4 linked regions of the Homo sapiens genome follow. The protein of the gene in region 2 purifies or fractionates together with the protein of the main gene of each other region. This does not show direct contact. Each region holds a gene or a part of one and is shown on either strand. Other genes may lie near its edges.

What was found.
Region 1: the proteins of DEF8 (region 2) and PLEKHM3 purify together in Homo sapiens (affinity purification with mass spectrometry; 2 studies listed by BioGRID and IntAct, with this or other methods). This does not show direct contact.
Region 3: the proteins of DEF8 (region 2) and PLCB1 purify together in Homo sapiens (affinity purification with mass spectrometry; 2 studies listed by BioGRID and IntAct, with this or other methods). This does not show direct contact.
Region 4: the proteins of DEF8 (region 2) and MSTO1 purify together in Homo sapiens (affinity purification with mass spectrometry; 2 studies listed by BioGRID and IntAct, with this or other methods). This does not show direct contact.

Annotation. Positions count from the first base shown.
Region 1 is NC_000002.12:207,820,771-207,826,539, reverse strand, and holds the end of PLEKHM3 (pleckstrin homology domain-containing family M member 3), read left to right. Parts: 3' UTR 1-5,252; downstream 5,253-5,769. UniProt on the Homo sapiens protein: Involved in skeletal muscle differentiation. May act as a scaffold protein for AKT1 during muscle differentiation.
Region 2 is NC_000016.10:89,951,746-89,958,774, reverse strand, and holds part of DEF8 (differentially expressed in FDCP 8 homolog), read right to left. Parts: exon of another isoform or gene 6,093-7,029; intron 5,399-6,092; exon of another isoform or gene 5,255-5,398; intron 4,533-5,254; coding exon of another isoform or gene 4,523-4,532; coding exon 4,399-4,522; intron 3,607-4,398; coding exon 3,509-3,606; intron 1,265-3,508; coding exon 1,115-1,264; intron 1-1,114. UniProt on the Homo sapiens protein: Positively regulates lysosome peripheral distribution and ruffled border formation in osteoclasts. Involved in bone resorption.
Region 3 is NC_000020.11:8,730,250-8,737,278, reverse strand, and holds part of PLCB1 (1-phosphatidylinositol 4,5-bisphosphate phosphodiesterase beta-1), read right to left. Parts: intron 4,042-7,029; coding exon 3,887-4,041; intron 252-3,886; coding exon 87-251; intron 1-86.
Region 4 is NC_000001.11:155,606,252-155,613,217, reverse strand, and holds the start of MSTO1 (protein misato homolog 1), read right to left. Parts: upstream 3,001-6,966; 5' UTR 2,970-3,000; coding exon 2,886-2,969; exon of another isoform or gene 2,794-2,885; coding exon 2,658-2,793; exon of another isoform or gene 2,180-2,657; coding exon 2,110-2,179; intron 2,003-2,109; coding exon 1,927-2,002; exon of another isoform or gene 1,863-1,926; intron 1,808-1,862; exon of another isoform or gene 1,792-1,807; coding exon of another isoform or gene 1,670-1,791; coding exon 1,615-1,669; intron 1,530-1,614; coding exon 1,391-1,529; coding exon of another isoform or gene 1,366-1,390; intron 1,298-1,365; exon of another isoform or gene 1,253-1,297; coding exon of another isoform or gene 1,236-1,252; coding exon 1,118-1,235; intron 1,037-1,117; coding exon 902-1,036; intron 801-901; coding exon 648-800; exon of another isoform or gene 584-647; intron 413-583; exon of another isoform or gene 375-412; coding exon 243-374; intron 170-242; coding exon 1-169. UniProt on the Homo sapiens protein: Involved in the regulation of mitochondrial distribution and morphology. Required for mitochondrial fusion and mitochondrial network formation.

The sequences.
Region 1 (5,769 bases), on a different chromosome or scaffold from region 2:
CCATACATGCATTTATTTTCTGACTATACAGTAGCCGCAACCAAGGCTTGAAAACTTGTTAAAAGGCCAGGGCCCTATTCATGAGACGCCTGACGGTGCCTTTTACCCTTAGAAAAGCAGGTTGACTTTTCCCCCACTCTAGTTAAAGAGAATGTTGCACACAAAAGAAAAAGGGTGGAAAATCTCAAACACTTGGCAACAGGCAAACAAATTTGATCATCTCCTTTCCTCCTCCTCTTGGTAAAATACAGTATTTATATTTTCCAGCCTCAGAGAAGATAGCAGAACATGATCTTTCACAAGAGAATTATAGACCTGCTTATTATAAAACAGATGTGCTCCCATGGCAAAGTGCCTTCTCCCTCCGCCCCCAGCTCCCTGTCACTGTAGCTTACTTTTGCCTTCGCTGTAATTAATGTATCCGTGATTCCAACTGTCAGCGAGGCCATTCCTAGCACACTGCATTTGGAGACCTGAAGTGCAGTGCCATCTCCTCCCCTTGTAACATGTTTGCCCTGCATACAGAATTTCCTCTCCTAGCTCACAGGCACCCAGGGTCATACCTGCCGAGAGTCAAGGGCGAAATTCTGGATCCCCGTTCAAAACATCTTTGTTTTCACCAGTCCCCATTTAGAGGGCCCTGCTAAATACGAGCAGTCCCTGTGAACTCCTAAGGAGGACTTTCCACCCACATCATTTTCTGCTTATTTTCAAAAGGGAAACAAAAAATCGATGTGTTATCACCATCAGCTACCCAGAGCTGGGTCCATGTCCAGCACTCCTGTTTCCTCTCCTTTTCGTACCACCCTGACAGCTTGGTCGGTGCCAGCCACAGGCCTATGACATTCTCTGCCACCACCACCAAAATCTGATAGGACAGAGTGGAGCCAGCTTAGGAGTTGGGTCTGCCATGAAAATTCAAAATTGCTGTTTTCAGCCCAGAATACCTTGGCGCACATGAACGCCCTTACTGTTTTCAACTTTAACAAATTACTTGGTGCACTGTTAGGTAATTGTTCCACTGCTTAGAAACTGTCGAAACAAAAGCAAATCTGTGGATTACCACCTCTTTCAGACCAAACTAATACCTGCTTTTCCTCGTGTTCCATTTTTCATCCCATATTAAATATCTTGCACATAAAACATATGAAAAAATGGCCAATTAATCTCCTGGAGCTGGCAACTGACTCCGGGGAACCGCTTTTTGCTGAAAGGCTCATTCCCTAGTGTATCACTTGAGGAAATCCCTCCTAAAAGTGCCAGAAACTCATGTGTGAGATCGTCCAACCCTGGTGAAATGTTGGCATCTAACCCCGCAGTAAAGAAGCCAGTTCCTAAAATAGACCTCATTTTGCACCGCGGCAGGAAGGCCACAAAGTACTTAAAAAGCCGTCAACTGGAATGGGGGTAGTGTTCTTTCCAGGCCCGCTTTTTCCAAAGTTAAAAGCCTCTTTATATGAAAACCATGTAAACTCTCAGCAGCCCCCTTTGCTTCACTGCCTTTTCTAGGGAGTGCATTAGAGTCATTTTTACGTCTGTAGTGCTAAAGGGTCACCTAGTTAGGAGCTTTAACATCGGATTCGCTGAGAGGGTCATCGGTTTTTGATTCTTCTAGAGTAGGCCTCCACCAAGAAGGGAATACGTCTAATACTTGGGATCTGTGGTTTGCAACACAAGTGGTATCCCTCAGACTCCTGAAAAGGGACTATGCCGTGACTTCCTTCCGGCTGCAGTGAGATCCGAGGTGTTTACACCACCCTAGTTGCCGAATGCAGCCTTTGCTCAGCTAGAGTGTGTCCTCTGACGGAGCCTGGCCTCTGTTTTTGTCTCTGTGTGTTGTGTGTACACACTGAACGTGGACATCGGATAGTTCTTTTCTGTGCCTCCTCAGAGAGGCTTGGCTTCCAAACCTGGGAGTTTGTTCTCTACCCATTGGCTAGAAAAGGCCGTCCATAAATTAGTATATCCAGGTGGGACTAGCACGATGCCACGCACACTGAACATTTTCTGCAGAGGGGCGTTAGCAGTGGAAGTAGAGACACATTCTGGTCCTCCTTTAGAGTCAAGCCAATGCTGTTGCTCGTGTATTTGTGCACAATTATTCATCTCCGTTGATCTGACACACTCTCTTGAAATCACTAGATTATGAAACAGATCTTCACCTCCTGATTCCAATACTGCCTGGTTTCAACACAGGGGTTGTTTTATTTTTTTACTTCTCCTAGTAAATAGAGATGTGTATAATTTTTGCCCATTTTATTTCTTGAGTTGTCTGCACCACTTCTTTTCTTACTCTGAAATAATGTGAAAACGTGAAGTTGGAGCAAGACCTTGAAAGAGCCTCCCTCCTTTGCGTGACCTGAATCGGTAGCGGCACTCTCTGTTTCCCCTGCCTCCGTGTCACTTGTTAGTGATGGGCATTAGGAGCTTCATATGTTGCACACCTTGTATCACTCTTCCGACCCTGAGTCAGGTAGAGCTGTCTGCTCGAGGTCGAATCCAGTGATGGGTGACTAAGCTCTGCTCGGTTAATGTAAACAGACAAGTGTTGATTTCTGTCATGTGGAACGGTGTTTCGACAGTTAAGTCTAGCACCCAGTAGTCTCCTTATTGGTAGACGATTCTAATTTCATTGGATTCAAAAATCTCTGACTCAAGGGTCTTTCCTTAGTGCGTTTTAATGGGTGCATGGCTGAGGGAAAATCCAAGTCATTGTTAAACTCTAGGTAAAAGACAAGAGTATGGGATACCCTCCTAACCATACCGGTAGTTGTCAGTTTTATTTAAAGTGGGTTCCACTTGGCCAGGATTGGTGGCTCACGCCTGTAATCCCAGCCCTTTGGGAGGCCAAGGCAGGCAGATCACTTGAGGTCAGGAGTTTGAGACCAGCCGGGCCAAAAATGGTGAAATCAGGTCTATACTAAAAATAAAAAAATTAGGCTGAACGTAGTGGCTCATGCCTGTAATCCCAACACTTTGAAGGCCGAGGTGGGTGAATCACTTGAGGTCAGGAGTTTGAGGCCAGCCTGGCCAACATGGTGAAACCCCCCTCTTTACTAAAAATACAAAAATTAGCTGAGTGTTTTGGTGGATGCCTATAATCCCAGCTACTTGGGAGACTGAGGCAGGAGAATTGCTTGAACCTGGGAGGCAGAGGTTGCAGTGAGCCGAGATTGCGCCACTGCACTCCAGCCTGGGCGACAGAGCAAGACTCCGTCTCAAAAAAAAAAAAAAAAGTAAGTTCCAAATGATCATGTTTTGTGGCACTGTCTTCGTAAAGTGGCCGCTGGTGTGATGGAAAGCATTGCTAAACTCAAGTGAGACAACTGCTGTTTTGCTTTGGATTTTCCCTGTGAAAAGAGAAGCCACTGCCTGTTCGTCTTGTTAGAAAGACAAGACTTTGAATGAAGTTCCAGACTTTGAATGAAGTTCCAGACTTTGAATGAAGCTGGTTGTTGCCCAGAGTAGAAGATTCAGGCACCTACAGCAACTCACAGCAACTCCTAACTCTTAGGAGGGCTCCCTCCTATTGGCCGTGAAGCTGCAAACCAGCCTCTCTCTTTTCCCTGGATCTTCCTTGCCCCTAGTTCTGAGCCCCAGCCCAGAGGCAGGCCTCATGGCTAATAAACCAGCTAGAGGACAGCTGGGGCCTGTGGCTCCTTCTCCATGTTGGCCTTCCCTTGTGTCTCTTGTCCCTGTAGGAGTGCCTTATAGTACTGTCTCGTGCTTCTAGTCTAGTCTGAACCACTTGAAGCCTGCAGGACCCTTCAACTAAATCTGGATCCCTTTGCTTCTTCCCTGCTGGCTACTCTTCATATAGATGCTCTTGGAGCCTGTGCATTCCATGATGCATGTCAGAACTCTCACCTTGTTCAGCCTGGTGTGCCTTAACCTCAGGAGTAAAGGGAATCATGTCGGAAACACGTCGTTAAAGTAGAATGGTACAAACATTGGCTTCTTAGTGCCATTAGCACTTTTACCAGGAAATGCAAAAGATGCAACCACATAATGTTTTCACTTTGTTTTATGCTGTTCTTCAATCGCTCTTTTTGTTTATTTGTTTGTTTGCTTTCATTAACCAAACTCAGGGGAATGTCATGATGTCACCAAGGCCAATGGGTAGAGAAATAAAAACCAGCCATCCATAATTGAATCTGTAAAGTCAGTGAACTTAGCCTTTTCAGGTTCAAAATTACACAAACACAAGGATTTTCTTATCTTTCACCTTTCAAAGGTTTTCTTTTTATTTTGCCACCTGTTTTCCAAATAAGAAGTGGGAAGCCTCTTAGATAAATTGTGATAAAAATGTCTCTTTGTTTGGCGTGAGCTATCAAATTAGCTTTGTGTGTCCACTGAGCCATCAAATTAGGCTTTGGCTGCTGGAGGCCTAGGTTCTAGCTTTGGTCACCTATCAGAATCTTACTGTTACGCTGGGCATGGTGGCATGTGCCTACAGTCCCAGCTATTTGGGAGGCTGAAGTGGGTAGATTGCTTGAGCCCAGGAGCCTGTGCAATATGGTGAGACCCATCTCAAAAAACAAACAAAAAAAGAAGTAGAATCTTACTGTGAATAGCTACTAGCCTACCCTAGAAGATATATATTTTAAATCTGTTTCTTAGGAATAGTAGCTAAAAGAAGGAATGGCCAAAGGAGGGAAAGTGGTTGGCCGCAGCGGCTCACACCTGTAATCCCAGCTCTTTGGGAGGCTGGGGTGGGAGGATCACTGGAGCCCAGGAGTTCAAGACAAGTCTGGGCAAGATAGCGAGACCCTCATCTCTTTGAAAAATATATATATATACTTTTTTTTTTAAAGGAGAGAAAATGCTTAGGTTGCAAATGGAGAGTATTGAACGTGGTGATGTAAAAAACTTCTGCAAAACTTGTTCTGTAGCTCCTGGGTCAGGTCTATGCCATTTTTTCTTATATCTGCTCACACAGTACAGAAATGACTAAAATTTTGGGTCTGGGCTGTTATATCACTTTGTGTTAAGTTATTTGTAGTAGCTAATGTGCTAACTTATATATGTGTTCTTTCTGTTTTTTGGATTTTACCTTTTGTTTTGGCATAACTTATCTATATTTTTGTTTACATTATTTTAAAAATATCAGTAACTGTAATAATATAAAATTGAAGTTGTATTGTTGACAATACCTCTAGTTTTTAAGGTCATCTGTCACATAATTTAAGTGCACCAGTTCCTAATGTATAAAGTTCTCTCTCTCTCTCTCTCAATAAACAATGCAGAAAATACTTTCCTTTCTCATAACAACTTGATTAAAATACTGCTCTTGAGGGGGTGGTGAAAGCCCAAGGTGAGCCCTATATATTAATTCAAAGTCAAGATTTGAGCTTTATTGAAAATGAGCCACAGCCAGGTGCGGAGCCCAAGGCAGGCAGATCACCTAAAGTCGAGAGTTCGAGACCAGCCTGGCCAACATGGCAAAACCCCCTCTCTACTAAAAATACACAAATTAGCCAGGCATGATGGTGGGCACCTGTAATCCCAGCTACTCAGGGGAGGCTGAGGCAGGGAGAATTGCTTGAACCTTGGAGGCGGAGGCTGCAGTGAGCTGAGATCGTGCCACTGCACTCCAGCCTGGGCGACAGAGCACGACTCTGTCTCAAAAAAAAAAAAAAAAAAAAAAAAGAACCACTTTTAAATTATCTCAAGTATCTTACAGATAGACTTTTAAAACAATTCATCAACCTACAATATTCTCATCAGCCCTTTCCATGCTCATGAAAAATGTAGTGTAACTTTTAAAAA
Region 2 (7,029 bases):
GCAGCGAGGGGCTGTGTGGGATTGCACCGGGCCATGGGCATGTGAGCGGGAGCGACCCGGCCTCTCTGCCCCTCCTGCTTTTTGCCGGTTAGGTGCAGGGCAATGGAAAAGGAGGCCCTCCCCAACACCATTAGCTGTCATAGAGGCCCCAGACCACCTATGGGATTTTTACGTGAGGAAACGAACACATCTTCTCTAAGCCACTATGTTTTGGGGTTTTTTTTTCTTACCACCAATTTACCTGTTTCCTCATGAATATTCTACTTTCTACATTCCCAGGGATACCTGAATCAGCACAGGGGACACAGGGCAGCCAGGCCAAAGCACACACAGACCCAAGGACTGCATCAGGAACATCTGTGGCCTGGGACCCACCACCTTCTTTTGTTGTCACCTTCAAGACACCACCCGTCCTTGTCCATGTGGCTCACTCAGGGAGGAACTTACTTAGCCCACCCGCTTGCTTCAGTGGGTGGGCACACAGCCCAGAACTAGCCAATCGGCCACCGTCATTGGGTCAGTGGGCGGGCACACAGCCCAGAACTAGCCAATCGGCCACTGTCATTGGGTCAGGGGTGGGCACATGACCCAGAACTGGCCAGTCAGCCACTGTCATCCGGTCAGGACTGGCCAATGAAAGTCAGGCCTGAGGTTCCTGCTATAACCACTGTGAAAAGGCAGCTGTCATCTGCACAGGGAGGCTCAGCTCCTGGAAAGCAAGATGTGGTTGCCGGGACCGTCTCTGCCACCGCACAGGGAAGGCCTGCCTGAGGCTGGATCAGACACAGGAAGTCGAGTTGGAAGAGAGCAAGATTCCTGACACTGGAGGATCTTCCAGTCACCAAGCAAATACATTTTTCTTTTTGGCTTAAGCTACTCAGGGTTGAGTTTCTGTTCCTTGCAACAGGAGGGTCTAGGCTAATAGGGAAACCTCCCGCAGTGGGGTGAGGGCCCGTCTTCCACCCTGCCTGTCTCGTGCCCTTCTACCTCAGCCCCTGAGGCCGAGAGAGAGACCACCGCCTGAGAGAGAGCCAGAGGCTGGCAGGGTCCTCCTAGTTCCACAGTTCTGGCCTCGGCCCCAGGCTGCCCCACGGCGGGGCGGCCCCACACCCACCTTCAGCTCCTGGAGCTTCAGCCGGAGGTGGATGAGTCGCACCACGGCATCCTTCTGCTTCTCCGACTGCTCGGGCAGCTCCAGAATCACCTGCTTGCACTCCTCGATCGCCTGCCGCAGCTGCTGGACGTCAGAGGCCAGGAACAGACCCTGCCCAGGTTGGGGGCGGGGGCAGTCAAAGGCCCATCCTGCAGGAGCTCCCTGTTAAGGCCCATCCGCCGAGACAGGCCCAGAGCAGACCCCGACACCCCTCACCCAGAGAAGGAAACTCAACCCAGAGGGCACCGAGGACTTGCTCCAGGGCAGGAAAGGTGGCAGCACGGTCAAGGTCCACCCGGTGCTGCGTGCTCCTAGCCTGACCTGCCTGCCCACAGACCTCTGAAAACCTAATGTTTGAAAGTTGCTTTTCAAAAGACAACTTCCTTCTTTGAGAAATCCAGATGCTTTTTTGTTATGTCACTTCACTTCCTTCTGAAGAGCTTCCTCTTGGAGGAAAGCTAGGGAAAGGACATTTGCTGTCATGAAGGACAGTAAGTGGCCTCGAGCTTGACTGCCAAGCCCAAGCACATGCCGAGAGCCAGCCCCAGCACTTCTGGTTGCTTTCGCCACATAGCGACCAGGGGGCTCACGGCCCAGCAAGGCCCCAGACTCAGAACACTCTGGGGATCCCGGGGAAGACAGGATCAGGTCTCAGTGCTGGGGAGCCTGGACCCCGCCCTCAGGAGCCATCCTCCTCCTCCAGGCTGCTGGGCTCTGAGACCCAGGCAAAGGGGAGGTGGCACCCTCCCCTCCCCCTTGCAGCTCAGCCTGTGGCCCAAAGGAAGTGCTCAAAATGTTGTAATATACAAAACAAGCTGAGTGCAGTGGGTCACACCTATAATGCTAGCACTTTGGGAGGCCGAGGTGGGTGGATCACTTGAGCTCAGGAGCTTTAGACTAGCCTGGGCAACAGAGCGAGACCCCGTGTCTATAAAAAAAAAATGAAAAATTATCTGAGCATTGTAGTGCACACCTGTAGTCTCAGCTAATCAGGAAGCTGAGGTGGGAGGATCGCTTGGGCTCAGGAGGTCGAGGCTGCAGTGAGCCATGATTGCGCCACTGCACTTCACAGCGGGGGCAACAGAGCGAGACCTTATCTCAAGAAAAAGGAAAAAAAATAAGATACGAAACAAATATATGAAGTCTCTCCCTCTTTTTTTTTTTTTCAGACGGAGTCTCTGTCGCCCAGGCTGGAGTGCAGCGGCACGATCTCGGCTCACTGCAACCTCCACCTCCCGGGTTCAAGCGATTCTCCTGCCTCAGCCTCCTGAGTAGCTGGGACTACAGGGGCGCTCCACTATGCCCGGCTAAATTTTTTTTTGTATTTTTAGTAGAGACGGGGTTTCAGCATGTTGGTCAGGCTGGTCTCGAACTCCTGACCTCACGATCCGCCCGCCTCGGCCTCCCAAAGTGCTGGATTACAGGCGTGAGCCACCACGTCTGGCCCAAATCCTTTCAAAGTTACATTTGAATGTTGCCGTAATGTTTCCCTCAAAAGTTGGAGATGGTTTGCATAAAAATAAAAGGTTTTCAAACTTTTTTTTTCTTTGAGACGGAGTCTCACTCTGTCACCCAGGCTGGAGTGCAGTGGCGCAGTCTCGGCTCACTGCAAACTCTGCCTCCTAGGTTCACATCATTCTCCTACCTCAGCCTCCCGAGTAGCTGGGACTACAGGCATGTGCCACCACGCCCGGCTGATTTTTTGCATTTTTTAGTAGAGACGGGGTTTCACCGTGTTAGCCAGGATGGTCTCCATCTCCTGACCTCGTGATCCGCCCGCCTCAGCCTCCCAAAGTGCTGGGATTACAGGCGTGAGCCACCGCGCCCGGCCTCAAACTTTTTTAAAAAAATCATTATATCCTCCCCCTTTTCTTCTTCAACACAAGGCTTCCATGGAACAAAACACGGAACAAACAAGAGTGGCCCTGTAATACCGACTGGTCAGTACGAGGCAGACAAGGGGCTTCCCCTTGCCTCCCACACCCTGACTCTCGGCAAGTGTACAGGACCTCAAGGACCCCAGAGGGAATCTATTCTCTGCACATTTGCTTCATGAAGACATGGAGCTCAGGGGACAGAAGCAGCCCCAGGTTCATGAACCCCAATCCCAGGCTCTCTCCACCTGCCTTCACTCAGGCTCTGAGGGTGGGGGTCTGTGGTGTCATGCAGGCCTCAGATTCGAAGCCAGGAGCCCTGGCTGAGGTGGGGGCTGCTGAGCCTGACAATGGAGTGAGACTGTACCCCAGCTCACAGGACACTGCCCTGCCACCTGGGAGGGAGTGACAAGGAAACCCTGGCCCTTCCTGCCTTGGGGGTTCCCTCAGTCCCTCTCCCCTCCGAGATCTAAAACCTTACCACAGGGCGGGAGAAGTGGTCCTCAGACAGGCCGAGATCCATCACGCGTTCAGGGCAGCGGAATTCCGGCTCCCCAGGGGGCAGCTCAGGCAGGGCCTCTGGAGGAAGACGGGGACAGGTGTGGAGCGTCAGCTGCTACCTCCTGCCTCCCATCCCCTAGGGAGGAGCTGAGATAGCCAGGAGTGGGAAAGGGATTCAGGAAGCCGCACAGAAAGGAGGCACCGTGAGAGCTGGGCACCACTCAGATCTGCACACCGTCCAGTCTGCATTCACAGAGGAGCCCACAGCCTTGTGTAGACAGGAAAGAGCCACTCAAAATGAGGAGGTGGAATGACACTCGGTGCCAAAAGTCCTCAAGACAGCATTATAGAGACATCCCATTTCTAAGGTGGACACCTCATGCGTGACCACGGGGGCGAGAGAAAAACCACTGCATGGCTACACAGCAAAATCCACGAACCCCAGTGTCGACTCCAGGCCGTCTCTGCAGCTGCCCCGCTCCAAGCACTCCCTGATGACCTCATCTGCAGTTTCTAAAGCTCATGCCACCCTGACGCCCAGAGCACGTTCCCTCGGCTAACCTCTCCCTTACCAGGTCTCAGCGCTGACCGCACTCAGCAAGTGTTCCCTGAGCACCTACTATGTGCTGGGCCCTAGGATGCAGCAGTGATGGGTCAGGCACAAATCTTGCCCTCAGGAATGTGAATTCTAGTGGGGACACAGAAACAAACCACACGACCACAGAAGAGATGGGAAAAAGAACACAGCCAGCAGGTGCCGGCTCCGTGGGAAAGCCAGGGCTGCGCAGGACGCGGCAGGAAGAAAGGAGGGGTCCACGTAAGCAGTCAGAGACCTGCCCAGCTCCCACCCTGACTCCCACCAGCACCCACCTTCAGGAGTGACGTCCGGGACCTCCTCCCCAGGGCCCTGCTCATGCTGTCTCGGCCCAGACTGCTTGTTGAAGGGGTTGAGGTGGGCCTGCCGGAAACGGGCCAGCTTCTCATCATATTCCATAGCATCCCACCTGAGGGCCAGGCAGGGCCAGGATGAGTCCCCAGGTACCAGGCTCACCACGGACCACCCCCTTTCCCCAACCACACTGGGGTGTCTGGGGTGAGGCTGGCCTCTTTCACTTCCCTAAAGTGGGTAGTCCTCACACCACAGCCTTGATCTTCAGCCTTTTCCTGAAACACCTCAGCTGCCTCCTGCCCAGGCCCCCACTGGTGGCGTCCCCTTGGAAAGAGCTCACGGTGACAATGAGGGTCCCACGAGGGCACGTGGCCCATCTGAGGGGCCCAAGCTCCCTGCCTCCCAGCACAGGGTCCTCTTGCCCAATGTTGCAGAGCTCCAGCCCTAGAGCTACCTATGGGATCCTCTCTGGGCCTCAGCCCCAGATACTCACTCAGCCCCGCTCTAGCTTGCTATCCACCTGCTATGTGAGACACACCTCTCAGAAATGGGTTCCTCCTTCCTGGGCCCCAAGCAAAGGTGCTTTCTTGTCAGAGCACCCTGAAACCACAGCCCCTGTCTCAGGACTTAGGGTTGGACACTTGGGGACAGTTCCAGGGCCCATTCCTGCTCTGCCACAGGTGAGTGAGCAGGGCCCACCTTCCCCATGCCCAGGAGCAGGGGATCTTGGGAGGATTCCCTGCCAGCACACAGAGAAGCCCCCTACAAATGCATCCAGGCTCTCTGGCCTGGGTTCTGATCCTGTGATGAGCAACACGACCTGAACCAGGCCCACGGCTCTGTGCCTCAGGAACCCAGGAAACAGGCCGGAAGGGCCTAGTTCTCCACGTGGCAGAAGCTCAGGATCAAGAATTGCTCTTTCCCCACCCGGAGGCTCAGAACACTGCAGAACACACAGGGCTGATGGCTCCTGGCAGGGAGGAAGGGACTTTGGTTGGGGTGGGAGTAGAGGCAGTTGGCATCCAGCCCTCCCACTTAACTTCCTGGGCCACATTCCTTAGCCTCTCTGCCTCCATTTCCCCATCCGTAATGGGCCATTGTGAGGGTGAAATGAGTTAACAGAGACTGAGCACAAAGTAAGCTCGCTGTAAGGTCTGTTGATGTTATAGAAAGTCGGAGATGTCTTTTTAAAGTTGTTCAGTAACTGCAACAGTGTTAGTTATGCTTTCACTACACCTGCTACAGTGTTAGTTATGCTTTCACTACACCTGCTACAGTCTGAAATAATTCACAATTATAATAATCAATCCTATGATTTATCCTCTGTCTCTTCTCCCAAAAGAAAGAGAGCTGAGCCCAGAGGGGACGGCCCTGCTCAGGGTCACACTGTGGCCTGGAAGAACTGGGATTTGAACTAATTGCCTCACTGGCAGTGGGATAAGGAGGCCACCCCAACCCCACATGGCTGCCCTGCAACTGGGCAAGACTCCACACCACCTATGGGGCCTGTCCTGCCTGTTGTGCCTGTGGGGCAGGAGTGTGGGTTGGGCACCTGCACGCCAGCCTGAAAGGACAAAGCACCCATGGACAGGCTGCCCGTGGACCCCAACAGGGAGGCACGGGGAAGACACAGGGAACGTGAGTGGGCCCCAGTCCCACCTCCTTCTCTTATTACCTGATGACTGTGGGTGGGTCACAGAGTCAGAGGCGGCCACCCGATGCCAGCACCTCCCCAGTCTCCCAGGGAGCACCCAGGACACAGGAGAAATCAGGCCATCCCAACATCACTCCTCCTTCTTCCTGAATGAGGAGCCTCATTTTTGTTTGTCACATAATTTCCCAGCCTCCCCAGCAGCTAGACCTGGTAAAGTGACTGTTCTGACCCCCTCGGCTTGAGAAGATCAGGCAGATCTGAGCAGCTCTGGGCTCCTGGCTTCACTGACATACCCAAGTGCTTAGCCCTTCCATCCACCCCAGGAAGTACGTGTTCTCCCTGATTTATAGGCAAGAAAAGGGAGAACCAGAGACTAAATCAGGGCTATCTGAAAACAACAGTAATGGGCCGGGCGTGGTAGCTCACACCTATAATCCCAGCACTCTGGAAGGCCAAGGCAGGAGGACGGCATCCGGCCAGGCCCAATGCAATGAGGCCCTATCTCTATTAAATTTTATACAAATATGGGCTGGGCGCCGTGGCTCACGCCTGTAATCCCAGCACATTGGGAGGCCGAGGCGGGCGGATCACCAGGTCAGGAGATCGAAACCATCCTGGCTAACACATTGAAACCCTGTCTCTACTAGAAATACAAAAAATTAGCCAGGTGTGGTGGCAGGCGCCTGTAGCCCCAGCTACTCGGGAGGCTGAGGCAGCAGAATAGCGTGAACCCAGGAAGCGGAGCTTGCAGTGAGCCGAGAACGCACCACTGCACTCCAGCCTGGGCAACAGAGCGAGACTCCATATCAAAAAAAAAAAAAATCTTTTTTACATAAATATGTATGTGTGTGTATATACATATATATGTGTGTGTGTGTATACATACATATGAGAAAAAAGAAAAGACTTCTGAGAATTGTCCTTAAAGGTAGGGGCTGCCCCTCTTCAGCCATCCCTG
Region 3 (7,029 bases), on a different chromosome or scaffold from region 2:
ACAAATAATTCACCATTTCATTATTTTCTCAGTGTAAAACACCTGAAAAATGCAGTTATAACTCATATCAAGAACATGTGACCAACCTTTTTGAACACAATAGGTTCTTCTTCCCAGACAGGATTCACAGCATTTCCTTGGGATGTTTTGGTCTTAAATGCCTTCCTCCTTGTATCCACAGGCAAACCAAACATATCTACTTCCACGTAAGTCCCAACTTTCTTATCAGAAAGAAACTGACCTGAAATAATCTAGAAAATCAATAAATCAATCAATCCATAAGGAATTTTGATATGCAAATAACAAAGACATAAGAGAATACTTTAAAGAGCCACAAATGCTCTTCAGCAAATGTTGAATTATAAGCAAAATGGAATAGAAGCAAGAGTAGAAATATGATTTCCCTTTCACTTAATGGGTTATGATATGGTTTGGTTCTATGTCCTCACCCAAATCTCATGTTGAATTGTAATCCTCACATATTTGGGGAGGGTGATTGGATTATGGGAGTGGTTTCTCTCATGCTGTTCTCATGATAGTGAGTTCTCACAAGATCTGATGGTTTAATAAGTGTGTGGCAGTTCCCCCCTCACTCTCTCTCTTCTCCCTTCATGTGAGGTGTGCTTTGCTTCCCCTTCACTTTCCACCATAATTGTAAGTTTCATGAGGCCTCCTCAGCCATGCAGAACTGTGAGTCAATTAAACCTCTTTTCTTTATAAATTGCTCAGTTTCAGGTAGTTCTTTATAGCAGTGTGAAAATGGACAAACACAGGTTGGTAGAAGGATATTGAAAATGGTGAGGTTAGAAGTAGTCAATTAATAAGACACAGTATTGTAGGAGGAATAAATGAACAAGTATTCACTTTAAACCATCAAGATAAGTTTATCATTACCCCTAATCTCACAAGGTGTCACCATCTTTGTCTAGCTACAGAACTAATGGATATTATAGACTTAAAAGAGATTTTTAATATTACGTATTTATAAATGTCTTCCATGTCTGCCTCTGTTTCTATGCAAATTTTCAAAATCTGAACTATCCACCAGCTGTCATAAAGGTTAGCGGAGGCAAACAAGATGTGCTTCTGCTGTATACCAGGAAGGGGAAAGCAGGAAGCAAGTGCTGACAGAGCAAACCTGGTGAATCTGGGTTATGTGGTTACAAGAAAATTGCCTGCTGGTCAAGAACTTTCTGAGCTCCAGATTGTGAAAAGGGGACAGCATTATGGCTGGGCTCACAATCTGAGCTCAAGATTGTGAAAGGGGACAGAATTATGGCTGGGCCAGAAATCAGACAAAATGGTGGCATGAGAATAGCTATCAAAGGCTGAGTAAAGTCAAAGTCAGCTATATGCTGATGTTGTCAGAAATTCTGAGTAATTCAGAGAGAAAGTCATCAGGAAGGCTCTCTGAATTTGCCCTGGGACAACTCATTTCCCCTGTATGTTCTATTTGGCTTGAGTGCATGGGACCTGCTAGCAACAATCTCTTTGTTTAACTTGAGGTTCTATGTGAGAACTATGTCTATGAAATAAGCAAGCATTTCAAAACATGTTTGAAACTTCTAAGTTATGCAAGTCCTACTTGGAATTCAGATGCACAGAAGATGTTGTATGTTTAAGATGTTTGACCAAAGCAGAGTCCTAAACTAAATTCATGACACCAAAACCACAATGCTCTCGTCAGTAACATAGGACGGTAGAACATCATGTGAGCTCACAAGTCCATTCTGGCATTATAAAATCTATGCCAGAAGATGAAAACAAAGGCATAATTGGAAAGTTATGATCTGTATCTTGGCTCTAGCTATAATGTCAAAGGTAGGACTCTACTGCAGTGAGAACTGTCCATTCAGGGGAGACTGACAGCTCTGGAGCAGCGTCTCCATTCTGGACAGGAGCAGCAGGTTACACTTGTCTGGGGATCAACTATTTCCCCTTCACAACTCAATGTACTTTCCTGCCTCTGTGTCATTGTTTTATAATTGCTTACTGTCACAGTAGGATTTTCAAGACAAAAAAAGAAATAAGCAAACAAATACATTCAAAACAAGACGAATCTGCAAGCAAAGCAAAAATATTATTAATTCAACCGAACTATAACAACAATTGACAAGGATTCTAAAAGTAGCATTCTATCAGTACATGGAGCTTATGAGTTTATCTTTATCACACCTGACAGGAATTAAACAGCCTTTTCTGAAAATACTTTCCTAAAATAAACTCTAATTCTGCCAACTTGAACTCTTTATACATGTGGCTTGAAGTAATTTCAAAAGATATAATTATGAGACACTTCACTGAAATTTTATTCTTTAAACCCTTGATATAAAGTGACGAAAGTTTTAAGGTAAAAATGTGCTCAACTGCTTAGGGTAGAAAGAAATTAGTGAAGCTGTTATAGAAAGCTTTTTACATAGTTTTTCAAATGCCTTTGTTTAAGGTTAATCAAAAAATTACATTTATGTCCAGTAAAAAAATTTCTTAGTTCTATAGTTATTCAGTTAAACAGAAAACAGACAATATTTTTGAAAAGCTTTAACGATGAAGAATCCATGTAAAATGTATTCTAAAAAATTGATTTTCCTTTCATAGTATTAAAAATATTTTCTGGTAGCTAAAAAATTATATCTGATATAAAATCAATTTCAAAGACTAAAAAAATTTAGAATTGTTTAGGGTCAGATATACATATGTATGTGTATATATCTATGATTTTTATATATTTATGACATACATGTATATATACATATATATTTAATAAAGCAACTCTTTTATTTAATGATCATTAATATGTGTTTTAAAATCTCTGAATACTCTGGAAGATTTTCAAAAACCATTTAAAGTAATTTGAAAGCTTTTGTTTAACATTTGATAATTTATTGAGGGAATGTTCTGTCTCTAATTTTCTAAGAACCAAACGGGGAAAAAAAGACCGGAAAATCTCTCCAATATGGGCCACTAATTATCATGTAAATTTCATAGTAGGTTAGTTACACCAAAAAAGAGGTTTGCTTATGATGAGTCTCTCCAACTCATTTTATTGATTTAGAGTCAGATTTTTATCATTAAGAATAAAGTTCAGTCGCTTTATCTTATTCATGTGGCCTATGAAAACTTTTTTTTTTTTTTTTTTTTTTTTTGAGACAGAGTCTCGCTCTCTCGCTCTGTCGCCCAGGCTGGAGTGCAGTGGCGCGATCTGGGCTCTCTGCAAGCTCCACCTCCCAGGTTCACGCCATTCTCCTGTCTCAGCCTCTTGAGTAGCTGGCACTACAGGCGCCCGCCACCACGCCCGGCTAATTGTTTTTTTTTGTATTTTTTAGTAGAGACGGGGTTTCACCGTGTTAGCCAGGATGGTCTCGATCTCCTGACCTCGTGATCCACCTGCCTCGGCCTCCCAAAGTGCTGGGATTACAGGCGTGAGTCACTGCGCCCGACCCTACCAAAACTTTTATTATTATTATTATTATTATTATTATTATTATTATTATTATACTTTAAGTTTTAGGGTACATGCGCACAATGTGCAGGTTAGTTACATATGTATACATGTGCCATGCTGGTGTGCTGCACCCATTAACTCGTCATTTAGCATTAGGTGTATCTCCTAATGCTATCCCTCCCCGCTCCCCCCACCCCACAACAGTCCCCAGAGTGTGATGTTCCCCTTCCCGTGTGCATTCATAGATGGGAATTGAACAATGAGAACACACGGACCCCTTACGAAAACTTTTAATGTGTATTTGATCTTTAGAGAAAAAAAATGTAGGAAGAAAGTAGAATCTTTCCTAGTTACTAAATTTTTAATGACTAAGCCACTTCTTTATGCAATGTAGATAAATTCAACACTATTGTTAGGAACAATTTTGTGATGGGGTATACCTACCTTAACAGACAAAGTGTTTGCCACTATCCCATCTACGATGCCTTCAGTAAATGGATCAAAATGCTTGTCAGGCCTCCTCATGAACTCTGGCTTCAATCTGTAGCCACTCTTCCCGTTGTATTCATACATCCCCATATTTATTTGCATAGCCAGGTCTGAGTATCAAAAACACAAGCCTTATTGTGAGTTTATCTATACTTGGGGTAAGAAAGTAAGATTGTAAAGTAAAGTTGATCCCAGTCCACTTTTGTGACTGTATTCCCTTGGAAGAGAGTCATTGTAGAAATGCAGGAAACACAGATAAGAAAAAAATTACCTCTAATCCCCAAGTCCAGAAATAATCACTGCCAACTGGTGGGTGTGCAGTCTGCTTTTCCACTTCAAATATATTGTTGACATACAGTATATTGATTTCATTTAATATGTATCTGCCTTAATTATAACAGCTGTCTCAAATTCCTTTGATTAAATATATTAGAATAATATATTTGTATAATATATGTTAAATATTAATATAATATAATATATCTAATATATAATATATAATTATATATAAATATAGTATATACAAAATATCTAATATCTAACATATATTAGATATATTATTTATATTATTCTAATATATCTAATATCTAATGTATTAAATATATCATTCTAATATATATTAGATATATTAGAATGATATATTAAATATATCATTCTAATATATAAAGCATATATTAGAATATTATGATACAATATCTAATATCTAATTTCTAATTTCTAATTCTAATATCTAATTTCTAATATGATACACTATCTAATACAATATATTAGAATATAATATCTAATACAATATATTAGAATATAATATCTAATACAATATATTAGAATATAATGTATTTAACCATTCCCCTTTTGGGCACATTTATGTTTTTTCTAATTTTTCACCCTTATAATGTTTTGATAAACATCATTGTGGTGAAATCTTTGAAGCCATGATCAGTGATTTTCTTATGAGAGGAATTCCTGGGACAAATGATGTCCTCATTGGAAAATTTTTCTTTGATGCCTTGCTAAAATGCCCTTCAGAAAGCTTAAACCAGCTTATACTACTAAGCCATGTTTTTGAGAATGGACTTCTCCATGCCTCATTAAAAGAGGATTCTATTATTCCTTTTCCTGCTTTTTAATTTGTACAAAAAATTTCTTTTTTATAATTTGCACTTCTGTGATTACTTACAATTAACATCTAATTCTACATAGACTCTTTTCCAGTGGACAAAGGTTACTGGTCAAAATTTTCCTCAGACTCAGTGCATCAGATGAACGTTCACACATATTGCAACTGATAGAGTGAAAGAATACATATTAAAGTTGTAAAGAATCTGGGAAGTTGTCAACAGTTCCAGATTATCTGTGTCATGACTCATCTCTATGTGCATAATAAAGAGGTGATGGCAGAATTATTCTAAAGTTTCATTTAACAAATCATTTTTAGAGCAGAAAAAAATCAGTGAAATTTTCTCTTATTAAACTATTATTTTATAAACATAACTATGATGTCAAAATTGGACAAAATTTCAAAACAATAATGAATTTATGACACTTGAAAAAATTAGCTTCAAAAGCCTAAAAATTACATTAGCAAGTCATATGTTCTAAAAATAATACACAACAAATAAGTAGAGCCTATTTTGGGAACAAAAGGATAATTATATATTAGGAAATGAGATCTATTAAGATAACTTATCACATTTATGTCTGAAAAATGAACATATGATCATCCCAATGGATGTCCAAGAGACATTTAATAACATTCAATACCAACTTCTAAAACATTAGTCAAATAGGACCCGTGTCCTTTAGTATGTTAAAGAATATCTGACTCAAAGTCACAGCCAATATCTGACTTGATGATATCACAACAGTGAAACTTATATTAGGATCAGGATGAAGAGAAAGATGCCCACTCTTCACTTAGATAGAAGACGTTAAGACCTGGTGTTTGATAGACAAGGAGGTGACTATAGTTAACATTAATAGTTTGTACATTTAAAAATAGCTAGAAGACAGCAATTCGATTGTTTCTAATGTAAAGATAAATATTTCAGGTGATGGATATCCCAATTACTCTGATTTGATTATATAAATGTATTAAATTATCATACGTACTGCAAACGTTTGTACAGCTATTATGTATCAATAAAAATAAATTAATTGATTTTAAAAAGCCATAAATATCTAGCAAATTACTCTTAATCGTGGCTTAGAGCTTGATAGATACTTAATAAAAGGCATAATGTTGAACTTCCTACTGAATAAAAAAGAAAGATGCCCACTCGGAACCCTCATTTAATACCTGAGAACGGTAAGGCCAAAGCAATAAATAAGGCAGGTGGAGAAATGAGATATGATTAAATTACTGTCTTTGTGTGTCTAAAAATTCCAACGGAATGTACTGCAAAAAATAGGCTATTATAAGAGTTTAGAAAGATGATCATTTGTAAAATACAATCATTTATAAAATAAACAAATATACAAATATAAATATCCAGAAACAATCTGTTAAAAATATAATATAAATAAAAAGAAAGATTCAGTCTAAGAAAACTAGACCTCTAATGAAGACAAGTGATTTTGCTGAGGACTTAATACAAAAAATTTTAAAGTAAAGAGAAAAGCATTTTTCCTGTGACAGAAAAACTAAAAATTAAAAAGGTGTCAGTTTTTGTCAGATAAATTTATAAAGTTAATATGATTTTAAAAATAGTTTTTTTTTAGTAGTCAAGGAAAACATAATACAGTTAAATTAAGTTTATTTGAAATAAGAATTCCACTGGCAATGGCAAAAAAGGAATTGAAAATTAATAGTAGTAAAGGAGAATCACCACTTCCAGGTATTAATCCATATTATAAAATACAGTAAAAACAGTGAGTTATTGCATCCAGGAAGGCAGACAAATTTATTAATGGAAAAGATACAAAGTGAAAAAATGGGTCTGAATTAACAACAACAATGAAAAAGGCTGTATCTATTAACGTGTAATTCCAGTTCAGTGGGATGATTGTTTAGGATGAAAAAAAAGGATTGATCTCACTGAGACTATGGACCAAAATTAAATTTTGATGGTTGAAAAGGTTAAATAAAAAAGAAACCATGA
Region 4 (6,966 bases), on a different chromosome or scaffold from region 2:
TGTCTATACCCCTCAGCACCACTGACTGGGCAAAGCAACGTGTTCCAGAAGGCTCCCCACATGCAGACAGTGGGGTCCATGGGGTGGCTCCTCCAAACTGCATCAGGGAATCAGGAAGGGACTGGCCTGGAGCCAAGGGGAAAGGGATGATTGCTCCTGCTGTCACCACCTAAAGAGATGGAAGAGAACACGTTATAGGACATTTTCTCAGCACTGACCCAACCCCTTACAAAGCTTCATACCTTTTTCCCACAGAAGCTCAGCATGTCAGCCAGATGAACCATGGAAACTGGAGAGGAACACAGGCGATAAGGAACAGTGACTGTGTCCAGGGCTGTAGCCAGGATGGCACTGCAGTGGAAGGGCAGAGTGGCCTGTAAGAAGACACCAAGATGGGCACTTGGCCTCAGGCCTGGAAAAGAATGTGTGGAGGCAGAATATTAACACCAGAGAGACCCAGGGGACGAATCAGGGGTATGTTTGACCCCAGGCTGGACAAGCATAGGACAGTGTGATCTGAGAGGCCACATCACAGCTGAGTTCAAGCTCGGGCCTCAAGAACAGAGCCAGTAACAGACAGCGGCTGACTGGGAGCATGAGGAGGCCCTGTAGCCTGCCGCAGTCAGAACAAGAGCACCGAGACTTACATCATAATGCAGGTAAGGGAAGCTGACAGGTGGCTCGGGTCGCAGGCCCAGGCTCCCACCCAAGGACAAGGGGCAGACAAGAGAGCTGTGAGCAGTCAGGTGCACGAGACCAAAAGCTGTGTTTAATAGACGATAGATGTTTCTCTGGGCCTCCTGGTGAAGAAAGAGTAGTTTGTATTAAGCAGCTCTCCCACTGGGATTCTGATTTCTCCCTCCCCACTGTGTGACTGTTTACTTCTCTAAGTTCCACTCACCCCACGATGGTAGGGACCAGGTAGCAGGCCCCAGGTTATTATTCCCCGCCCTGAATATTCATCTTGTAGCAGCTCTGCCGCCTTCGCGCCTACCCCAGAGAAGCCATCGTGCAGGTCACACAGGATCTGGAAGCCCTGGACGGGGGTGAGTGACAAAAGATAGTTAGCAGGATGAGAAGAGCTTCCACCCTGGAGTGCACATTGCCACGCCACTACCTGCAAGTAGTCACATTCCTCCACGTAGAAATGCAGCCTGTCCTCCAGCTCTTCCTGGTACTTGGGTTCCTTTAGGACACTTTCCCCTTGGCCAAAAGCCTCCAGCCGACCTGCTTCCCTGCCACAAGTAAACATGATCCAAGACTTACATCTCTTCCCTCAACTCCTCAGCCTCTTGTCCTGGGGAAGGGCAGGGAAGATGGCCTCAAGAGCCTCATCCTGCATTGGTGGGGACCCATGTTTCTTGCCTCAAAGCCTCTGGGGTCCCCATACCCATCGTGGTTGTACTTCTGAATCATACAGATGCTCCGGGGATGGAGATGGACTCTGAGGAAGTCTGACCAGACCCTGATGCTGGCCTCTGTAGGGATAAGTGGTTTTGGAGTTGTAGCGGTGGGGAGTGGTGAGGAACCTGAAGACAAGCAGAGGAAATGTACCTTTCTCCATGTTTCTGCTCTACCCAAGCCCCCATCCATCAGTATCTGGAGAAGTCTCACCTTTGCCATTGGGAATGGATTTGACCCTCCAGACACCATCACTACTCAGCACTCCCTGGGAGGGGTCAGAAAAATCGACATTTAGTTCCAGGCAGTTTAGAGGCAAAGGTTGCTTCGTCCTCCTTGAGTTGGCTGGCCACACCGCATAGCCTCCTTTCTGTTCACCGAGTCGCAGTCCTTAGGAAAAGGAGTGCTTTTTCCCAAAATATCATTCTAAGACACTTAAAATGATTAAAATCCCCGTTTACCTGCCCCTATGGAGACCCTCGGGTTGTGGCACCGGGTTAAAAAGTTCAGGACAGAGGCCCTCACCTCTGCACTCAGAAAGTCTTGGAGATAAGGGTTCTTGGGATAGAGTTCCTCTTTGTGTGTGGTGAGCTTCCCCTGCCTGAAAGAGTTTGGAGATTGATCAAAGAAACTGCACTCTGATCAGAGTTATCCAGCGTTCTGCGTACATACACGATCCCCACCCTTATCCATACATCAGTTACACACCATGCTATTGCAGCATCCAACTGTTTGTCCCTGTAGAGTCCACCTTCCTCTTTTAGGGAGCTCAAACTACCTGTACAGAAATAACAGAGACAATGTTAGGTCAAAGCCTGGGCACCCTTCCCCTCTAGCTAACCTTCCTCTGATCACCTGACAACCTGCTGTCACCATCTCTCCAGCACTTGGCTCTTCCAAGCTTTCTGGGATATACACTAGTTGGGGGAAAAACCTTGGCTTAGGAGAATCTAGATTCCATCTTTCGGTTCCCAGCTTAGTCATTAGCTGTGGGACGCGGGGGGAACCACATCCAGGGGTCTGACAGGAGTGCTGCAGTTCAAGTCCTCACTGTCTCCAGGGCCTAGCAGCCTATTCCCGAAATGGCTCTTGAGCAACTGTCGTGGGCCCCTCGAGTGTTGGCATGTTGTGCTCAGCTCCTCATCTCCGGTCCTGGAGCTCGGTAAGGTGGGAGGGTCTTGAAGATAACGGCAGCGCAAGGACTAGGCACGCGGAAGGGAAATAAGGGGCATCGGCTAACTCTGCCACCACCTCACCCTTCAGATCCATGAGGATGAGTCGCGGCGTGTAGGTCTCCTGGCCGTGCAGCGTCCGGCCCGTACGATACAGGACGTCGGGGCACAGCTCTCCCGGGGGCTCCTTGGAATCGGTCGCTCGGCCCAGCGCAGCATCCTGGGGAAGCAGAGAGGACGAGGCAGGCCGGCTGAACGTCGGGACTGTAGATCCCGAAGGGCTCCTCGGGGGCAGCTGCCGGCTGACCTCACCTGCTGGTTCCACCAGTGCGCGCCCACGAAACCGGCAAAATGTCCCAACTGCAGTGTGAGCACCTCCCGGGCCCCGCCCGCCATACTGCGCTGCTCCACGGGGCCGCCGCGCCTCAGCCGCGCCGCTCGCTGCTCCTAGCCGATTGGCTTGGCAGGCGCGTGGGCGGGTGTTATTCTCGGCTACTTATTGGCCCGCAAACACATCCTTTCCCATTGGAGAAACGATGCGCCGATCCCTTCCTACCTCTTCCTAGACGTGGCCCAGTCCGGCTTCTCTGTGGTTGCCTGTGAGGGGCGGGGCTCCACGGGCCACGCCGTTGCTCCTGCTCCACGTTGGAGCGGGGTGGGCGCCGTCTCCGCCGCTGACTTGGGGCCGCCAGGGCGCGGGCCGTGGAAGGCTCTGCTTCCTACTTGTCTTGAGGTCTTATCCCTTCTCACAGATCTCTCCGCTGGCTGATAGCTCCCCGGGCAAAAAGAAAACCTTGCCAGAAAAGCGGAAGCTCCCCTAAAGCCTCCCATGCCCCTTCATCTCTTCAGAAGTCACGTGGACCACGACTAATAACCTGTGGACTGGCTTAGCTATCATATCTCTATCATTTACACGTATTTATCTATCTCTGTGTATCTAACACCTTATGTAAAGAGAGTATGTATCTGTTGGCGTCTTTTGCTCAATATGGTTTATGTAATTCATATTTTTGCAAATATCTATAATTCATTTTCATCACTGCGGAATAGTCCATTGTATGAATACGCCACCACTGATCTATTCTAAAGAAAGAATAGGCTGGGCGCGGTGGTTCACGCCTGTAATCCCAGCACTTTGGGAGGCTGAGGCGGGCAGATCACGAGGTCAAGAGATCGAGACCATCCTGGCTAACACGGTGAAACCCCATCTCTACTAAAAATACAAAAAAAAATTAGCTGGGCGTGGTGGCGGGCGCCTGTAGTCCCAGCTACTCGGGAGGCTGAGGCAGGCGAATGGCGTGAACCCGGGAGGCGGAGCTTGCAGTGAGCCGAGATCACGCCAATGCACTCCATCCTGGGCGACAGAGCGAGACTCTGTCTCAAAAAAAAAAAAAAAAAAAATATATATATATATATATATATATATACTGCTGATAATAGCTTTTGGGATTGTTTCCAATTTTTGGGCTATTAGGTGCTATGATTAACATTCTTGTGTGTATTTAGAAACAAGGCAAGGGCCGGGTGCGGTAGTTTACGCCTGTAATCCCAACACTTTGGGAGGCCGAGGCAGGAGGATCAACTGAGGTCAGGAGGTTGAGACCAGCCTGGCTAACATGATGAAACCCCGGTCTCTACTAAAAATACAAAACATGTAGCCGGGCGTGGTGGCGGGCCCTTGTACTCCCAGCTGCTCAGGAGGCTGAGTCAGGGAATCATTTGAACCTGGGAGGTGGAAGTTGCAGTGAGCCGATATCACGCCACTGCACTCCAGCCTGGGAAACAAGAGCAAAACTCCTCTCTAAAAAATAAAAAATAAAAAAATAAAAATAAAAATAAAAAAGGCCGGGCGCCGCGGTTCAAGCCTGTAATCCCAGCACTTTGGGAGGCCGAGGCGGGTGGATCACGAGGTCAGGAGATCGAGACCATCCTGGCTAACACGGTGAAACCCCGTCTCTACTAAAAATACTAACAATTAGCCGGGCGTGGTGACGGGCGCGACCTGTAGTCCCAGCTACTTGGGAGGCGGAGGCAGGACAATGGCGTGAACCCGGGAGGCGGAGCTTGCGGTGAGCCGAGATCGCGCCACTGCACTCCACCTTGGGCAACAGAGCCAGACTCCATCTCAAAAAAAAAAAAAAAAAAAAAGAGATAAGGCAAATATTGGTTGGGCGCAGAGGCTCACGCCTGTATTCCCACGTTTTGGTGAGGCTGAGGCAGGAAGATCGCTTGAGTCCAGAAATTCGAGAATGTGAGGGTAGACTGGACAATGTAGTGAGACTCCCCCTCCCCCTATCCTCTCTATAAAAGAATTTTTCAAAAAATTAGCTAGGCAGCCCACATCTGTAGTCCTAACCAGAGGCTAGGGTGAGAGGATCGCTTCAGCGCAGGAATTAGAGGCTGCGGTGAACCATGATTGGAGCACTGCACTGCAGCCAGAGACAGAGGGAGACCCTGTCTCAAAATTTTAAAAAGTGACAAAATGTTAATTGAATCTAGGTGAAGATTATAGGTGTTCTTTTGCAGTACTCTCTGAGCATTCTTGTAGGTTTGAAATTTTTTCAAGAAATAAAGGTTAGATGCTCTTATCTCTTCTGAGCTCTTTGTATTTTCACATGTATTATATTTAGTTTTGTTTATTTATTTTGAGACTGTCTCACTCTCTTTGCCCTGGCTGGAGTGCAGTGGTGCAATCTCCCGGCTCACTGAAGCTTCAACCTCTTGGGCTGAAGCGATCCTCCCACCTCAGCCTCCCAAGTAGCTGCAATTACAGGCATAGGCCACTGCACCCGGCTAATTTTTGTATTTTTTGTACAGAAGGGGTTTCACCATCTTGCCCAGGCTGGTCTCCTGAGCTCAAGCGATCTGCCCACTTCGGCCTCCCAAAATATTGGGATTACAGGCGTGAGCCAATATGCCCGGCTACTATTTCACTTTTCTAAGTATGATGTGGGCTGAAAAGTTTCTATAGATACTCTGACAGTTTAAGGAAGTTCTCTGTCCTGATTTGCTAAGAGTTTTGATCATGAATAGATTTGAATGTTTTTTACAGCTTTCTCCAAACCAAGATAATTACATTATTTTATCCTTCCTTTGTTGTGCTAATGAATAAATTACATCGTTAGATTATCATGTAATACTATCTTGCATTCCTCAAATAAACCTAAACTCGGCTAGGCGCGGTGGCTCAGACCTGTAATACTAGCACTTTGGGAGGCCGAGGCAGGCGGATCACAAGGTCAGGAGTTCGAGACCATCCTGGCCAACATAGTGAAAACCCTGTCTCTACTAAAAATACAAAAATTATCTGGGCGTGGTGGCACGTGCCTGTAATCCCAGCTACTTGAGAGGCTGAGGCAGGAGAATCTCTTGAACCAGGGAGTCGGAGGTTGCAGTGAGCCAAGATCGCGCCATAGCACTCCAGCCTGGTGACAGAGAAAGACTCCAACTCAAACAAACAAACAAAAAACCTAAATTCATTTATGTTGATTATCCTTTTAAAATATTGGATCTGGCTGGGTGTGGTGGCTCACACCTGTAATCCCAGCACTTTGGGAGGCCAAGGCGGGCGGATCACGAGGTCAGAAGTTCGAGACCAGCCTGGCAAACATGGTGAAACCCCATCTCTACTAAAAACACAAAATTAGCAGGACGAGGTGGCGCGTGCCTGTAATCTCAACTACTCAGGAGTCTGAGGCAGGATAATTGCTTGAACCCGACAGGCAAAGGTTGCAGTGAGCCAAGATGGGGCCACTGCACTCCAGCCTGTGCGACAGATGGAGACTCTGTCTCAAAAAATAAATAAATATAAAATATTGGATCTGGGCCGGCTGCAGTGGCTCATGCCTGTAATCCCAGCACTTTGGAAGGCTGAGGCAGGTGGATCACTTGAGCCCAGGAGGTCAAAACAAGCCTGGGTAACATAGTGAGATCTTGTTGCTACAAAAAAAAAGGCTGGGTACGATGGCTCACACCTGTAATCCCAGCACTTTGGGAGGCTGAGGCAGGCGATCACCTGAGGTCAGGATTTGAGAACAACCTGGCCAACATGGTGAAACCCCATCTCTATTAAAAATACAAAAATTAGCTGGCAGTGGTGGCACGCGCCTGTGGTCCCAGCTCCTCGGGAGGCTGGGGCAGAAGAATCTCTTGAACCTGGGAGGCGGAGGTTGCAGTGAGCCAAGATCATGTCATTGCGCTCCAGCCTGGGAGACAGAGTGAGACTCCGTCTGAAAAGAAAAAGAAAGAAGAAGAAGAAAAAATAGAAAAAAAAAAGTTGTATCTTGGCCAGGCACAGTGGTTCTCACCTGTAATCCCCAGCATTTTGGGAGGCTGAGGCAGGCGGATCACTTAAGGCCAGGAGTTCGAGACCAGCCTGGCCAACATGGCGAGA